Regions from separate parts of the Homo sapiens genome. Here region 2 is linked to region 1. The links come from fine-mapping of genetic effects on gene expression. A gene starts in region 1. The other region holds a variant in brackets. All regions are shown on one strand. Distances are between the middles of the regions. Region 1 holds the start of DCAF11 (DDB1 and CUL4 associated factor 11). Region 2 overlaps CARMIL3 (capping protein regulator and myosin 1 linker 3).

Region 1 (5,512 bases):
TAGGGGCTTTTCCTCTTACCAGGTGGGTTGTATCGATCCCCAAGACGACCATCCCAAGCTCTGTCATTCTCTTCCTCTGAGTCCAAGAGGGCCTGAATGAATTGTAAATTTGCTGCACCTCCTCCCTGCACCAACCTCACTTGGCCTCTGTGGAGAGACCCCCATTATAAAGGAGGGGACTTCTTCCCCCAAACCAACCAAATTCAGAGTCAATGGCTATCTAGCTCTTAGACCACTTGGTACTCATTTTGAGGTTTGAGGCTGACTAGACCTTGGCTGTTATTTTTGGTCTCCTATAAAACACAGTAGGAAAGAGAGTTTTACTCTTACAGCAAGAGCAAGACCAACATGCTGTGGACGTGACCTACTAAGTTGACCTCCCAGCGAGCTAAACATTCTAACATCATTTCCTTAGAACAAGAGCAAGACCAATACGCTGTGGACATGACCTACTAAGTTGACCTCCCAACAAGCTAAACATCCTCACAGCATTTCCTTCTGAGCCTCTGCCTGAGAAGTCCACCACAGAAGACAATATTCTAAGCTGGGTGCGGTGGTGTGTGCAACTGTAGTCTTAGCTACCTGGGAGGCAAGGATTGCTTGAGCCCAGGAGTTGCAGGCTGTGGTGTGCACTTGATCACACCTGTGAATAGCCCGTTCTCCAGACTGGGGAACACAGTGAGCCCTGTCTATGTCTACTAAAAACAACACAAAACACAAACAAAAAAGAATACAATATTCTGAAGGGACCCCCAAACCCATCTTCTCCTCAAAGAGCCATAAGCAAAGAAAGAAAGCCAGCTGCACCCTTTTCCAGTCAATTCCAGGTGGTCTCTCCCTTCAAGGCATTCTTTCCTCAAGAACAGGTTAGAGTCAGGGCAAATTAAACTTGTTTTTCAAGTAAATCGAAGTGGCCTCATATCATGTGTCAACTGCCTTACTAAAAAGTTCAACACTCCCTTCCCATCTCTTCACCCCTTACATCACTCCTTTCCCACTAGGACCCCCCCCTTTTTTTTTTCAAGCTTACTTGGAAAATAGACTATATTTGTGTAGTCACAGAGACAGGCTCCCTTGAATAGCCCCTCAAACACATGAGCAGGTCCTCTTGGTGACCCTCCCTAGGTAAGAACCACTCTTACTGGGTATGGAGCTGAGTGCCATGGGTGCCCAGCAGGGAAAGGCTGTTCAGCTCAAACAGAACAGCTGTCCTGAGCGAATCCCATTTCCTAACCTCTGTAATTTTCCTGCCTGGAGTTGGGATCAAGGCACTGTGGTAGCACCTGCTGGGGGTCACACCAGAGGGTAAGTTACCTGCGGAGGAGATAGGCCAGTACCTGGGCCAGATCCACATCTTCATCCTCTTCTTCCTCTTCCTCACTCCGACGCAGGCCAGCCCCTCTTCGGGGCAAGCCCTCGGAGGGGTCTCCGGACCCGGATCCTGCACTGCTGCTGTTCCGCGATCCCATCTTCTGGTCACAGCATTCTTAGGTCCTGTGCGGGGGCTCCTCCTGTCACCTCCTTGGGTTTGGTGAAAGCAAAGCGTGCTCTAGAAATACCAGGGTCTCCTGAGACGGGGTAGTAGCTATCTCTAGGAGGGTGACCCTTCCTCGGGGCTGAGATCCCTTTTCTTTAGCCTATGCCAACTACCAAGGCGTCGGGAACACAAACCTTCTCCAATCCTGTGAAGCAAAGAAAGCAAGAGTGAACCGTAGTGCGCTACCCTAGCTCACCAACTGAAGAAAGATTTGTTTTCTACACCAAACTCACCTATCGAAGTCCCCGGACTGGGGAGCGGGAGGGGTGTTGGGCGGTGTTGGATTTCCAGGTAACCTCTCTGACCGACCAATCGAAATCCCTCTCGGAAGAAAGCGCTTCACTAGCTTATCTCATCTAACCAATTAGAAGCCTTAGGACTCAAAGACCCTCGACGCCCCCACCTTATCGACCAATCAGAGCGCCCCCTTACAAAGGCCGGCAGCAGTGACAGCCAATGAAAATAGAATTTGGCCTAACACCCCTCCTTCCTCGCCTCACGCCCACGTGGTGCGCCGGGGGTGTGTACGCCATGAGGGGGAGGAAGCCGAGAAGCACCTCCCACTGAAGCCGGCGGTAACCGCCCCACGCGAGACCACCCACCAGCCAGGAGCGGTCGCAGGACCCGCAGCGGCGCGAGGCCTTGTTTACACCGACTGCCGCCACTGCGTTGGCCAACCGCTCCTCCGTCACGCGCTTCGCTCGTCACGCATCTCGCGGCTTCCTGGCCGGCGGGCTGCAAACGTCACACGACGGCCCCGCCCCCTTGGCCAGCCAACTGGACAGCGGAGCACGATGATTGATAGGTAGGCGGGAGAATGCGCGAGGTGCCTGAGGGGAGGAGAAAGTGCACACCCAAGGAGGGCTGTTAGCTCTTGCTGGGGAGGAGTAAGTGGGAACTGCCAGCTTCCTGAATCAGAGACAGCCGAACTAGGCGTAACGGCTGAGAGGCGGGGCTTAAAAAAGAAACGTTTGGTGGTTCGCTACCGAGAGGTATTTTAGCAAGGGATATAATTTACTGTCTGTCCCTAAAGATCATTTGGCATCGCACTTTTCAGACAGTGCCCAAGGGCCTCCTTTCTCCCCACTGCTTCCCCTGTCCAGCTGGAGCCGTTCTTCTGTCGCTGGCCGCAGCTCCAGTCGGTTCTGCCCTAAGGGGTGCCCAGCGTCCCAGTAGACCTCCATACCGTCCTTCCGGGCTTAGCTTTTGGAAGCCTTGCTCTTGGGACGGTCCCCTTTTAGACCTCCCTTTATCCGGTCTGACAATTTTTTAAGACAATCCCTGGCTTTCCGCCGCGGTCTTTGCAGACGTTCCCTAATACACGCGTCTTTCTGTCAAAGCTTTTCCGGTTCCGCTGTCCCCTTTGACGCTCCCTTGGCCCTCCGGGATTTGCAGACCTTCGCTAGTCCCTCTGTCCTCGCGGTGCCTCTCCGCCCCCGGCCGCGGGTCCAGGGTGCGCGCTCGCCGCCTCCTGCCCCCTCCTGCCCCCTCCTGCGGGTTTATGAGTAACAAGCCTGAGTCCAAGGCCGGGAGTTGCCACATCTCTGATCCTCGCCCTGGCTGGGTGGGGACGTGTGGGTTGAATGACCTTGCTGTCTCGGGCTCAGAGGCTCAGGGTCCGAGCTGAACTTCATTCCCTGCAGCCTGCACTTCCTTGGGAAAGCTGCGAGCTTCCCTCCGCCCGCTCCTGAGGGCAGGGATGGGAGCGAGGGCTCGTGGCCTTCTTGGGCCCTCCTGGGGCCTCTCCCAGTGAGGGCGAGGGTTTGGCCAGCTTTCGGGCGACGTCTCCTAGTCTCTAGATCCGGAGACCTGAGCTTGTCACCAGGGCTAGCTTTGATGGCCTCTGCGCTTAGAAGGGTCCTGAATGTTTGGTTTAATGTTCTAGTGTTAACGGTCTTGAAATTATTAGTAATTTTAAAGCAAGTGCCTGGTATTTTCATCTTGCACTCGGCTCCACTGATTATGTAGGCGGTCTGCTGGGCGCCCATCCTCTATTGCCAGATTACTTACTATCTGTGCTTTAACGTTTATTGAGACTTTAGGATTCCGTGGTTTCTGGGTTATCCAGCCTGGAAAATCGGGATCTTTATTTATTGATTGATTTTACCTGCGTTCTCCCAGAATGTGACGGAATCATTTTTTTTTTTTATTATACTCTAAGTTTTAGGGTACATGTGCACATTGTGCAGGTTAGTTACATATGTATACATGTGCCATGCTGGTGCGCTGCACCACTAACGTGTCATCTAGCATTAGGTATATCTCCCAATGCTATCCCTCCCCCCTCCCCCGACCCCACCACAGTCCCCAGAGTGTGATATTCCCCTTCCTGTGTCCATGTGATCTCATTGTTCAATTCCCACCTATGAGTGAGAATATGCGGTGTTTGGTTTTTTGTTCTTGCGATAGTTTACTGAGAATGATGGTTTCCAATTTCATCCATGTCCCTACAAAGGACATGAACTCATCATTTTTTATGGCTGCATAGTATTCCATGGTGTATATGTGCCACATTTTCTTAATCCAGTCTATCATTGTTGGACATTTGGGTTGGTTCCAAGTCTTTGCTATTGTGAATAGTGCCGCAATAAACATACGTGTGCATGTGTCTTTATAGCAGCATGATTTATAGTCCTTTGGGTATATACCCAGTAATGGGATGGCTGGGTCAAATGGTATTTCTAGTTCTAGATCCCTGAGGAATCGCCACACTGACTTCCACAATGGTTGAACTAGTTTACAGTCCCACCAACAGTGTAAAAGTGTTCCTATTTCTCCACATCCTCTCCAGCACCTGTTGTTTCCTGACTTTTTAATGATTGCCATTCTAACTGGTGTGAGATGATATCTCATAGTGGTTTTGATTTGCATTTCTCTGATGGCCAGTGATGATGAGCATTTCTTCATGTGTTTTTTGGCTGCATAAATGTCTGCTTTTGAGAAGTGTCTGTTCATGTCCTTCGCCCACTTTTTGATGGGGTTGTTTGTTTTTTTCTTGTAAATTTGTTTGAGTTCATTGTAGATTCTGGATATTAGCCCTTTGTCAGATGAGTAGGTTGCGAAAATTTTCTCCCATGTTGTAGGTTGCCTGTTCACTCTGATGGTAGTTTCTTTTGCTGTGCAGAAGCTCTTTAGTTTAATTAGATCCCATTTGTCATCCTCCCTAACTCATTTTATGAGGCCAGCATCATTCTGATACCAAAGCCGGGCAGAGACACAACCAAAAAAGAGAATTTTAGACCAATATCCTTGATGAACATTGATGCAAAAATCCTCAATAAAATACTGGCAAACCGAATCCAGCAGCACATCAAAAAGCTTATCGACCATGATCAAGTGGGCTTCATCCCTGGGATGCAAGGCTGGTTCAATATACGCAAATCAATAAATGTAATCCAGCATATAAACAGAGCCAAAGACAAAAACCACATGATTATCTCAATAGATGCAGAAAAAGCCTTTGACAAAATTCAACAACCCTTCATGCTAAAAACTCTCAATAAATTAGGTATTGATGGGACGTATTTCAAAATAATAAGAGCTATCTATGACAAACCCACAGCCAATATCATACTGAATGGGCAAAAACTGGAAGCATTCCCTTTGAAAACTGGCACAAGACAGGGATGCCCTCTCTCACCGCTCCTATTCAACATAGTGTTGGAAGTTCTGGCCAGGGCAATCAGGCAGGAGAAGGAAATAAAGGGTATTCAATTAGGAAAAGAGGAAGTCAAATTGTCCCTGTTTGCAGACGACATGATTGTTTATCTAGAAAACCCCATCGTCTCAGCCCAAAATCTCCTTAAGCTGATAAGCAACTTCAGCAAAGTCTCAGGACGGAATCATTTTTTAAAAAAATTGGCCGGGCGCGGTGGCTCACGCCTGTAATCCCAGCACTTTGGGAGGCCAAGGCGGGTGGATCACCTGAGGTCAGGAGTTCGAGACCAGCCTGGCCAACATGGTGAAACCCCGTCA
Region 2 (5,000 bases), 56 kb after region 1:
GCTCCTTGTCCACAGCTTTGGACACCTCACTTGCTACTGATTCCAGCCTCTGCCGCACAGGCCCATCATTGGCCAGCACGTGGCCCAGCTCATAGAGGCTGGGAAACAGCTGGAGAAGGAAGGGGTTATGATTAGCAGGCCAGAACCAGGACTTGCTAGGTCTCTGGGGTCCCTGGGCTAGGAAGGCAGATGCACAGGGCAGGGCTGTCATGGCTTAGCATGGTCGGCCTTCTTGGGTTCTCCAGACTTCAGGGGAAGGGTAGCCTGTGGAGGGCTCACCGCCCGGGAGTTCTTGGCATCTTTGATGAGGTCCCGAGCGTAGAGTAGCTCATCCTGCACAGGCTCCAGGGGGCATAGTCTCAGGGCCCGCACCTCCTCCTGCACTCGTCCACACAGCCGCTGCAGCATCTGGAGCACAGTGGCAGGGGTGTCAAGGGGACCCCTGCTTCCACATCTTCGCAGGTAGGACCCCTTAGACAGTGCTACTGGTGCTGGCACCGACAGTGGTGGAGGTGATGTCTCTGGCTGGCCTGGTCCCCATTGCTACAGCCTTCTTGAATGCCCAGCTGAGCTCCCAGAGTCCTGTGCACTCCTGCTGTTCGCCCACATATGTTTGAAGCCCATATCCTGCATGTCCTCTCTTTTTGCTTCCCCACATGCTCAGTCCAGTGATAGGCACCATGCAGTGCCTCTTCATGCTCCCCCACTCAATTTTCCATCACATCACACTGTGCCCTGCATGCCCCGGGTATGCCCCGTGTCCCAGAGGGAAACGTTTACTTGCTCGGCGCTGCTGGTCACCAGGCCCTGCTGCAACCTGAAGGCCTGCTCCTGGGGGCACGTCTGGGAGTGGTTGTTCCTCACTAAGCACCATTGGATCTGGAGATGATGGGGTTGGTGGGTCAGGGCCTGGGGATGGGGGCTGCCCCCTGCCCCTTGCTGTGCCACCCTGCTTAGGACAGCACCCTGCACCTTCTGCCAGACGTCCTCGGTGCGCTCAGGCGCGCTGCGATAGGCTTGGGAGATGTCGCTCACGGGGAAGGACATGAAGCGCAGCGTGTGGTTGCTGTGGGACACAGGGGCACAGCTGGGTGGGAACAGGTGAGGATGGGAGGCCCCTGCCTCCTCTGTTGGTGAGCAGCCCTCCAGCCCCCTTGCTCATCATTTCTGTCTTCCATGGCCCTTCCTAAAATTTCTGTGCAAATAGGTCAAAGGGGCTAGGGTGGGGCAAGAGTAGTTCAGGCCTGATCCAGGCACAGGGAGGCTGGGGACTTGGATCAGGGCAGGACCATGGTCTACTCACCTCTCCAGGGCCCTTGCGATGTCCAGGAAGCCCAGGGCAGATGTATTGTTCCGATCCCATAGGATAGTTCTGGGGGGAGGGTAAGCACCAGTTTGGCACCTCTCCTCCTGGGTCCCTACTAGGGGCCAGGGACACAAACCTCTTGGGGCAATAAGGCTGACTCAGAGATGGTTCTGGGGCTGGGGGTCTTCTGGAAGCTGGGGTCCAGAGCATCAAGGAAAGCAGGGAGATTATGTACATATGGGGAGGGGCTGGGGCTCCAGGTCAGGGGGTCCCGGTGTGGGCCCCACCTGAGGGAGGAGTTTATCTGCAGGGCCTTAGACAGCATCTTGGCCCCGATGTCCTCCATGCCATTGCCGCTCAGATCCACCTTGGCCAGGCAGGTGTTGCTGCCCAGGGCATTGATGAGGATGCTGGTGCGAAGCTTCAGCCGGGAGTCTGCCACCGACAGTGACTGCAGGGACTGTGTGGGCAAGGGGCGGTTGGACCCAGTCCCCACAGCCTCCTCCGACTGCAGGTCCCCTCCCAGGCCCAGGCACTCACACAGTCCTCTTCCTGGATCAGCTGCACCAGCTTGTGGAGGATCTCCTCCAGGGTCCTGCAGGGAGGCGGGGCTCAGAGTAGGAGGGGAAGGGCTGGGGTCATGCTATTGGAGGAGGAGAGAGGTGGCCAGAGGTAATACGGTGAGCCAAGAGGATGGGTGAATGATGGGATGAGGGTCTGTGGGCATGGAAAGGGGGCCTCACTTGGCCTTGACATTGAAGTTCTTGCCCAAAAACAGGTGCTTGAGGGACTTGTTCTTGCCAAGTGCAGGCACCAGTGTCAGGAGGTCCGAGTCGAACCCTGGTGAGCAGATGGGAGAGGCCTGGCCTGGAGGCCTGAGGCTGACTGGTGTCCCATCAGGGCTGCTTCTGCATGCTCCAGGCCCCTGTTCTCCCCTGGCCCCAGGGAAGGGAGGAACCACTACTCACCATTGTCTGACAGATCCAGGCTGCCTACACAGGTGACAGCTCCCAGCTGCTCCTGCAAGGCTTGGGCTCCCGCTGAACGGAGCTGCAGGGACAAGGTGAGGTAGGGAAGGCAGGGGTTGGGGTGGGGGTAGGGCACCTTTAATGCTTAGGATATAGTAGTCACACCAGAACTCAAAGTCATGCCAGGATCTGGGTGTAAAATCAGGGAGACTCTTTCCCCACACCAGATCCTTCCCTAGAGCTGGCTTCCCTCCCTTCGGCCAGGAAGGCTGCTATTCCTAAGACAGCTTGCTCCTGC[C/T]CTCTGGTGGAAAAGTCTGGTATCTCCCACCCCAAAGCTTTAAGGGCAGAGATACTAGAGACTGAGAATGAATGGCCTCTGGAAAAGAGGCCAGACTGAGAGGGGAAAGTGGTGGTGTGGCCAGGTCAGGGGGTCGCAGAGGGTCAGCACAGAGGCTAGATGGAGCCAGGGTTTGACTTAGGTCTGAGAAATGCACATGGATCGGAGGCGGGCAGAGGGGTTGGGGACTGAGGGCTCACCTCGCAGCTGCTGAGATCCAGGTGCAGGTCACTGAGGTGACTGTTGAGGGAGAGGCCCTGAAGCAGCGCCCTGTGGGAGGGAGGTCAGCAGGCCCTCCTTTACCTCTTCCCGCTCCCCGTGGTTCCCTTGGATGCGCCCCCAACCCTGCACCCACCCGACCTGAGGGCCTCCAGGGGCAGCTTTGTGGCCGACAGATTGACGTGGCTCAGTGTGTAGGCGCTGCTGAAGAACTGCTTGAAGGCCGGCGGGGCCTCTCGACCCTTCCTGTGGAGAGACCCCTGGGGTCAGCGAGGGAGGGGGTTGGCCATGTCTTGCCCTGTCCTCCCTTCCCCCTCCTCTCCCACCTGTGGGAGCAGCTGTTGCGAGCCAGGTTGAGGTAGGTGAGGTGGGAGCAGCAGCCGTGGAGCAGGGCACCGAGAAGCTGTGGGGGGAGATATGGTGGGTCTCAGGGGAGCTGGAAGGGGGTAGGGGGTGGCAGGAAAGGACTCCCCCTCCCTCCCCATCGAGGTTCCTGGCTCTTCATTCTCTGTGGTCAGCCTGTGTGAGCTCCACTGGAGATGCCCACTCAGATTCTTGAAGTCTCTGTTTTCTCCCCTGTGGAACATGGGTCTACTCCCTGCCTGGCTTCCAGGGGCATGAAGCTGCTCACAGGCAGTGGATGTGTAAAGCCAGGGCCACCACTGACTCCTAAGGTGCCTTGTTCAAGTTAGGAAAAGCATCCATTCCCCTGGTGGAGCCAGGGTGCACAGCTGGGGAAGGGAGCAAGGGCTGGCTTTTAAGCACAGCAAGCACAAGCTTGTGACCTGGATAAAGTGCCACACAGGTATGAACTATGGACATTGCTTTATACTTCAGCTGAACCTGAAGTCATCTAGACAGCTCTGCCCGCCTGTGTACTCAGGGATAGGGGGTGAGACCGAGGCCCACTGTGGTCTTCCCCAAATCACCTCAGACTGGCTTCCCATCACCAACTCCTCACCAAGTCGATGACGCAGTCAGTTCCTGACAGGTCCAGGTGCACCAGGGCGTTGGGTTGGGCCAGGAAACTGTAGAGGGCCTGGAGTAGGAAGGAAGAGGGGTTGCAGGGGAAGGGATGATGGAGTCTCGCCACCCCCAGAGGCCATGGGGCAGAAGGCCTCCCAGCTCCTGAAGCTTAAGCATGCTTTCTGCAGGGGGCTGAGGCTGTTCTGAGGACTCACATTGGCCTCATCCGTGGCGAGGAGCCCAGGATTCTTGCTCAGGTCCAGGTATCGAAGGGAGCTGGCAAATGCTGGGTTTGCCCCGAAGGTCTGGCCGAGTGCCTGGAGCCCTGAGCACAGCGGGCACTGGGCTGGGTTGGCCCCTAGCCCCACCTCTTCCCCTCAGCACATAACTCTTCCCCTCTCCCCAAACGTGGCTCCTTTTCACTCTTCCATCCCTGAGGTGGTGTGTGAATGTGTGGGTGTACCTCTGGAGCTCAACACCCCAGGCAGCACCAGGGTAGGGTCAGAGGTCAGGGGTCCTTGGTGCGAGTACCTCGAGGGGAAATGGCAGTCTTGGCCAGGCACAGTTTGGTGAGGCCAGAGGGGAAGCAGAGGAGCTGCTGGCTCAGACTGAGAAAACCTGGGGAGTGGAGAGAGAAACGGGCCCAGTGAGGGGCAGGGCAGTGGGTGCAGGTGGCACAGAGTCAGGTTGGGGGCTCGAGTAGGGTACAGGCCTTGGGTCAAGGATGGAGGTGTCAGGGCAGGGGCTGGAATCAGGCTGGAGAGCTGCTGTTCAGACCTGGTTGGGCTCTGGGCTAGGACAGGGGTCTGCATTGGGATGGGGACAGGATTCAGGGCTGGGGCTCACCCTTGTCCTCGATGGGGTTGTGGGACAGAGTGAGGGCATGCAGCACACAGCTCCCGTTCTCCCCAAACACCCCGGCCAGCTTCTGGACAAAGTCCCTTCAGGGAAGGGGAGGAAGGATTTGTCCTGAGCTGAGCCCCAGGTCCCAGCCTCTGGGCTTCCCCTCCTCCTCTACCTGACTGCCTGGCTGGGGCTGCATGGTCAGAGGCCCCCACAACAGGGGAACAGCTCAGGGCCTGCCAGGGAGCTTGTCACCACTCCGGAGTACCTGGGGGCATTCCACACCTTAGGAAGTTGTGCTGAGACAAAGGTCAGCTTTGGGTCCTCAAGACTGGAGCAGCCCACCCTGCTTGGTAGTTAA

Evidence for each region. PIP is the estimated chance that this variant, and not a neighbour inherited with it, causes the effect.
Region 2: its variant is fine-mapped to the expression of DCAF11 in whole blood (TOPMed, PIP above 0.99).

The regions. Positions count from the first base shown.
Region 1 is chr14:24,111,552-24,117,063 of GRCh38, reverse strand. DCAF11 (DDB1 and CUL4 associated factor 11) reads right to left here and starts at 2,287. Exons shown (of 15, transcript NM_025230.5): 1 at 1,771-2,287; 2 at 1,315-1,682; 3 at 20-147. The coding sequence starts at 1,469. It overlaps NRL (neural retina leucine zipper), which reads left to right and starts at 2,115. Exons shown (of 3, transcript NM_001354768.3): 1 at 2,115-2,342. RefSeq lists enhancers at 2,208-2,357, 2,598-2,737, 2,319-3,034.
Region 2 is chr14:24,056,036-24,061,035 of GRCh38, reverse strand. CARMIL3 (capping protein regulator and myosin 1 linker 3) reads right to left here. Exons shown (of 40, transcript NM_138360.4): 11 at 4,643-4,737; 12 at 4,328-4,414; 13 at 4,012-4,121; 14 at 3,792-3,869; 15 at 3,157-3,233; 16 at 2,972-3,076; 17 at 2,812-2,881; 18 at 2,275-2,356; 19 at 2,050-2,146; 20 at 1,847-1,901; 21 at 1,594-1,766; 22 at 1,304-1,372; 23 at 973-1,066; 24 at 781-879; 2 more. Among named protein-coding and RNA genes, the nearest start is that of CARMIL3, 6.5 kb to the right of the region's middle. The variant C/T (reference allele first, on the strand shown) is at 2,573.